Linked DNA regions of Homo sapiens. The protein of the gene in region 1 purifies or fractionates together with the protein of each later gene. This does not show direct contact. Each region holds a gene or a part of one and is shown on either strand. Other genes may lie near its edges.

What was found. Proteins that work in one complex are often made in the same cells at the same time.
Region 2: the proteins of NELL1 (region 1) and CEP44 purify together in Homo sapiens (affinity purification with mass spectrometry; 2 studies listed by BioGRID and IntAct, with this or other methods). This does not show direct contact.

The regions. Positions count from the first base shown.
Region 1 is NC_000011.10:21,558,086-21,561,585, reverse strand, and holds part of NELL1 (protein kinase C-binding protein NELL1 isoform 1 precursor), read right to left. Parts: intron 1,398-3,500; coding exon 1,204-1,397; intron 1-1,203. UniProt on the Homo sapiens protein: Plays a role in the control of cell growth and differentiation. Promotes osteoblast cell differentiation and terminal mineralization.
Region 2 is NC_000004.12:174,307,911-174,311,410, reverse strand, and holds part of CEP44 (centrosomal protein of 44 kDa), read right to left. Parts: intron 2,723-3,500; coding exon 2,552-2,722; intron 1,562-2,551; coding exon 1,355-1,561; intron 629-1,354; coding exon 553-628; intron 1-552. UniProt on the Homo sapiens protein: Centriole-enriched microtubule-binding protein involved in centriole biogenesis. In collaboration with CEP295 and POC1B, is required for the centriole-to-centrosome conversion by ensuring the formation of bona fide centriole wall.

The DNA of each region.
Region 1 (3,500 bases):
CTTAGACATTTATATCTTTAACATTTAGGGCAAGTTACTTTATCCCATGGAAATTCAGTTTCATTGTCTTTCAAAGTAGTGCTGTAAGAAGTAAACATGATGCAGCTTTTTTGAATTATAGGGTGGCTGAAATATAGCAGGTGCTCCAATAAGGGAAAACAAACCTAGATTGGAGTGTGGGAAACTAGGTTTATGTGAAAGGGGAAAAAATAGGTGTTGGGGGTAATGATCTAGCACTTGATAATGTGGCCCTCCTAACTAGGTGGCCCCAGGTCTGTGGATGTGTGGCAGATGAAGGCAAGTGGATGAACTGGATGATTTCTTAAGGCTCATTTCAGCTCTGTTTCAGCAGACTGGGAATTTATCAGGAGACTTGGCTAAGAGGCTACTAAGCAAGTAATTTATCTTGGTTCCCATGCACATAAAGCTCAAGATTAAATAGTCCCATCCCAACAGACATAGACATACCAGGCAAGAGCTACAGTAGAGCAATAACAAAGGAAAATAAATAGGCAAGATCAATAAAAGAAGAAATAAAGCACAAAGAGATCAAACAGTTTAATAGACCCATTTTGCAAAGCATAAAGCAAAACCAAATGATGACAGAATTTTATTTTCATAAGCATTAAGCTCACTTTCCAACAACTTAATATAAGGAATGGCCCAGCACTGAGAATAACAAAGAAGACATCAATTTCTAAGAGGCCTCATACTATCATTATCATTTGTTCAAAATGAAAATCCACCTGTCTCAGCACTGGATGCAAGTCTGTTGGCCTTGCTTTTCTAGATGATGTCATAAAGTGAGCAAGTTCATGCAGGTGGTTATTTTAGGCAAAGAGTAGTTTTAATCAGCAAGTTTGTATAAGCGTGGGATGAGGGCTCATTAAAACTCTCACCCAACCAACCTTAAAAGCACTGTAGGCTTTCAGTGGGAGGACTATCATTGGCTTTTCTACCCTGCTTCGCCTTCCCTGCAGTTCCTTCTCAATCTCATACCTCACTTTCCACTAAGAACACAATCAATTCAAAGCAGGCTTCCCTACCCCTTAGCATCATCATTAGCTGTAATGTAGATAAGAACAGGAGAAGCCTGTTCAGGAACTACAGTCAACAGCAAGAGGGAGAGAGCTGGGGAGGTAGAAAAGTGAGGGAAGAAGAGAAAGAACAGTTTCAATTTCTGCTGCACCACATCAGCCTCACCTTGCAGGAGCAGACAGAACACCTGTCTTCTTTCAAGGTCCACACCTGGCCATTGTGCTTCAGCCCCCCTTCATGAGGACAGTCACCAGAGCAGGAGGGCCCAGAGGGGCAGAGACAGTCAAAGCCCCCTGCCAGGTTGATGCAGGCAGAATCGTTCCAACAGGTGTGAGTTCTTAAGGCACATTCATCAATGTCTGCAATATAGGAAGCACAGAAGCTTAGAATCTAGCCAAGGGAACTTAGAGAACAAACAACCATCATTTGCAGTAGCATTAACTAACATCATCGACCATTTACCTTGTGCTAGGTACTGCCAAGCTGTTCACATGTATTATCTCATTTACACTGCAAGTCAGTTCTGCTCTGTGTGGGAGATCTGTCCTTATTCCTATTCTGCAAATAATGAAGCTGAGGTTCATAACTTAAATAACATGACCACTGTCATAGAGCTAGTAAGTGGCTGATCTGAGACCCAAATCTACAGCTAGCTCCCAGACTCTAATTACTAAAATATCCAGTAGCAGTTAGCAAGTTCTTTTAGGATATTCTTAAGAACGATTTCATCCAGAGGCCATAAACACTGTTAATTCATTAACAGTATGCACACACCACCATGGAGATCTGAGTCTTTTAGAAAAGATGTGAATGTATTAGCCACTGAGTAGGAACAAGTGGGCAATTTGGGCAACCTTGAGACAATCAGATTGCTCCTAGATCCTACCACCAAAGTTGAAGGAAGTGGGAACAATTCTTGATAGGTGTCTTTTATAGTCAAAGTCTTACTATCCTTATGGCCAGCAGAATATTTGCCCGTGCATAAAAAATAATTGCTATATGGATGGATGCTGATGAAAGACATAAATATATTGTCCTGCTCTTTATTGACAGCCAACAATGGAATAAAAACATAAATCCAGTCGGCCGATTCTGACATTTAAAGCTTGAGCGACCTTAACAACATCTCAAACACAAACCTGTCCAACCCTGGCTTAAGTCCTTCCCCAAAAGGCAATCCATTACCTTGCAAAATACCTGACTCCACCTTTGGATAACTCTTTTGGAAATGTCTCCCTTAAATTGAGATGAAATATACTACCGAGTAACTTCTACTCATTTGTAGAAGTACTGATACTTAGTGTCTGAGGCCATTGAATAAGTGTCTACTAGTCTACTTGGTTTTGGTTTACCTGCTATGCACAAGTTTCTTTGCACATGGTGCAATACAAAGCAGATGACATTAAGAAATTCTAATAATATTTCTAGAAGTTACTTTTTTCCAAGATCTAATTTTTGGCTTTGTCTTACCAATTTTAGCTTTAGTCAAGACATTTCATTAGTGAACAATGATTTCTCCTTTGAAAATTATAGAAAAGATCCCAAATTATGATGCCTGTATGGTAAGTCAACTAAAATCAAGCCTCACTATATCTCCTCACTGTTACTAGTCATGCCCATCCCATTCTCAGTGTATTTCTATTTGAACATATGGTGCTCCTTTCATATAGCCTCTCTTATCTCTTCAATCTTCTTTCAATTCTCTTATTCTTCTCAACTAAAAGGAGTTTTAAATGTGGGAGTCTGGTGACCAATGTTTGAAACCAAGCTCTTACTTTTTAGTTGAGTGCTTACCATGTATTAGTCATTTTACACGTAACAGTTATATATTCTTTGACATGTTACTTTGTTTTTCTCTCATTTATCTTCTATATACACTATACCCACTCAATGTATGGTCTTCCAAAAATTTTAAACCCAGCATAGCATATAAATGCCATCTAATACTGCAATTGTTATCTCTTGTCCCCTCCCTTTTCATTCAAAAGCAGTGAATACAAAATTTCAGTTAAATAGAAGGAATAAATTCAAGAAGCTCTATTGTCAAACATGATGACTGTAGTTAATAACAAGGTATTGTATGCTTGAAAATTGAGAATATTTTTGTCACAAAAAAGTAAGTGTATAAGGTAATATATATATATATATTATGTAGCTTGATTATTTAGCCATTCCAGAATGTATTCCTATTTCAAAACATCATGTTGTACACCATAAATATATATAAAATGTATTTGTCAACTGATTTTTTTTTAAAAAGCAACGGGAGATCCACAAAGAGGCCATATTGTTTCCTATGAAACAACTGTGTCTTAGAACATGCTTTCTTTTATTATGAGAGTACTCTCTCTCTTTCCCTACTTTTTCTTGTCCTATAGGGAATGAGGTGAGGTATCAATCAATTAATTGATAAGCACTTTCCTTCCTGTACTACTTTCACTCCTACGCAGTCTTAAAAATTC
Region 2 (3,500 bases), on another chromosome or scaffold:
CTGTCACTGAAAAACAGAAATCTTACCCTTGCTGCTCAGTCACACTAAGCAAAATATCAGTAGCCTAGTAAAGTGACCAGGAAAAGACCTATCCTAATATCAGATCTTTCCCATTTTATCATTATCAGTGAACTATTCACATGGAAGAAGTTTGCAATACTTTATAGATACTGACAAATGTGTTTTCTTCTCTTACATATTATTATTTACATATGAGAAAGCTACTACCTACCTAAGCTTAAATTTAAAAACTTGGAGGCCAACATTAATATCCTAGAGCACTTGATTATTCTCGAATGATTAAAACAGTAAAATATCTCTAAAAATTTTCAATTTTGTACACTGAAATTTATTCACCCACTATGTTATGTGAAATAAGTAGGCTGGTTAGTTAAGCAATTCTTGGCTTTAGTAGTCTGTAGGTTCATTATGTTCTTTGTTCTAGGAGCTTTGCAATTTCTAAACAATAAAGCTTAAGAATATTAAAATTACTATAACAATCATTTTTCTGAAAACTCATCATACCAATTCTCATAGTATTTACAAACTTACGAGGATTCAGAAGGTCCATGTCACTACAAGAAGCGTAGTCTTCACTAACTTCATTAAACTCTATAAATTCATCATTCTGGAATAACACAGTTAAATATTTAGAATGAAATAAAAAGAAAAACCCTCTCATTTTATATTCTTAATGCTGAGCATAAAATATAAAGGTAGCATGATAAATGTTTAAATATTTTTAATTTTTTATTAAAGCAATACATATACTGCATATTCCTACATATAAGAAATGTTTTAAATATGGAAGCAGATAGCAAGCTACTTGACTTCACCTTCTAGGAAGGAAAGACAGACCAGAAATTGAAATCCTGAGTAAAAAAAAACAAATTTCTCAGATTTGATAAGGCAATGGTAAATCTGGTAACTATTCTATGAAATTCACAATATGATTGAAGTAAATGAGTGAAAAAAAGATGGGAAGAGTTACCTATATCTTCTGTATCTTTTCTACCCTATGAAAATAGGTTATTTGTACTATTAAAAGATATAAAATAATTTTAAGCTTTTCATATCTATCATATTCTTACCTCATTTTAAATTCTTCAAGCATTATTAACATCTGTAAAAGCTCAACTGACAAGTTTTTCAGATTATCTTATTCAATGAAGAGAGAAACAACAGCCACAACAACATACAGGCTATATTTAAACAGGACTTCATTCTAACTAGACATTTTCTCATTATTCAAATATTCTCATATTTAGCATTTCCAAAAAAATACACATATAACAATCAAAAAAAAACTTTGTTATATCTGAGATATTTTATAAATGTTAAAGGAGGAAAATACCTTTTTAGACAAAAGCATTTCTGTTTCAAGAAGAGTGACACGACTAAGAAGATTAGTCCAGGTGTTTTCATCTACCATCACTTTTCCTTTCATTTTTTGTTCCAAACAGTCTAACCTTTTCTCTATCGAAGTCAGTTTCTTAAGATTTTCTTGGCATTCAGCAAGCATAGTTTGTAGTGCAGTAATCTCAGGATTAACATTTACATCCTAAAAAGGTTAGAGAGATTAAAAATAAAATTAAACAAACTGAAATTTCTTTAAAATTAATGTATTCTCACTTCCACAGCGTTATCTCAACAGTTAGGAGAGACCGTCCTGCTTGAGAGTTAAGAGAGCTATCTCTGGATGGAGACTACTTGGCCACTTAAACCAGTTCTGAGATTTATGATCTTGATGCCTCCATTTCCTCATTAAAAAAAAAGAGATAAGAGCAGTATCTATTTCATATGATTCTTCTGATAATGAGTTAATTTGCATGATTCTCTTAATACCAGCTAGTAAAATAAAACTATTATTAACTAGCTTCTTGAAACAACGCTTAGCACAAAGCTAAGAGGAAATGACCAAAAACAACACTTAGTGCATTGAGATTGTTCGGTTTGCCATATAACAGGAAGTAGGTCCAATGGCCATCTGGTAGTTTTTGTAAGTGCCAACTGTATATTGATATACTGAGATATATAGAAATCACAAGACATAGAAACACAGAAAAAGAAGTCTTAGCAGAAACAGTAGAGATCAGACATATTGGGGTCTGTGGCAATTAAGAGTAATAGAAATGGTTTTTTAAGAGAGACAGAAAATAACAGCAGGGACCCAGAAAGGAAAATGAATAGGCAATAAAGTGCCAATCTTTTCCATTCACCAATAAAGAAAATAGGTGGTAGAGAACCTCCACTATGCAAAGTAGCATATCGCTATGTCTCACTAAATTGTAGATTCCTTAAAGCCAAGTACCATATCTTATTCTACTTTGCATCACCCCAACACTTAGCCCAGCACCCTACACATATGCAGCAAATATTTGTTGAATTATTTTAGTAAGACTTATTGACACTTCAGTAATTGTAACATAGATAAAATGTCATGATTAATAATTCAAAAGGCTAGAAATATTCCAAAGTTTAGAGGCTGAAATAATTACACATATTTAAGTAAAAAATACTGGCATCTATTTAAAAAGTCCAAAGTTGTTACCTGTTGCTCAGCCTTGATTTCAGGAACCTTTACTTCAGGCATCTTTATTTCAGTAGCATTTAAGTCAGACACATCAACTGCTTCATTAACATCTGTTATTGGACTTAATGTATCCTCAGAAATGTCAACATTATCTTCATTATACAAGTGACGAATCACCACAGCTTTCTTCTGCATAGAGAAAAATATGTAAGAAACACTTCAATGTTTTCCTCCCACAATTATTTATTTTTTAACTTTTAAGTTCAGGGGTCCATGTGCAGGTTTGTTACACAAGTAAATGTGTGCCATGGGGGTTTGTTGTGCAGATTATTTCATCACCCAGGTATTAAGCCTAGTACCCATTGGTTATTTTTCCTGAACCTCCTCCTACCCTCCACCCTCTGAAAGGCTCCAATGTGTTTTGTTTCCCTCTATGTGTCCATGTGATCTCATCATTTAGCTCCCACTTACAAGTGAGAACAAGTGGTATTTGGTTTTCTGTTTCTGCATTAATATGCTAAGGATAAGGGCCTCCAGCTCCATCCATGTCTCTGCAAAGGACATGATCCCATTATTTTTTACGGCTACAGAGTATTCCATAGTGTGTATGTACCACATCTTCTTTATCTGCTCTATCATTGATGGGCATTTAGGTTGATTCCATGTCTTTGCTATTGTATTTAGCTTGATTCCATGTCTTTGCTATTGTGAATAGTGCTGCAATGAACATATGCATGCATCTTTACAACAGAACAATTTATATTCCCTTAAGTATATACCAAGTAACGGGACTGCTGGGTCAAATGGTCTTTAGGTCTTTGAGGAATTGCCACACTGTCTTCCACGGTGGTTGAACTAACTTACACTCCCACCAACAGTGTATAAATGTTCCTTTTCTTCCACAAACTCACGAGCATCTGTTATTTTTAGACTTTTTAATAATAGTCATTCTGAGAAGCGTGACATG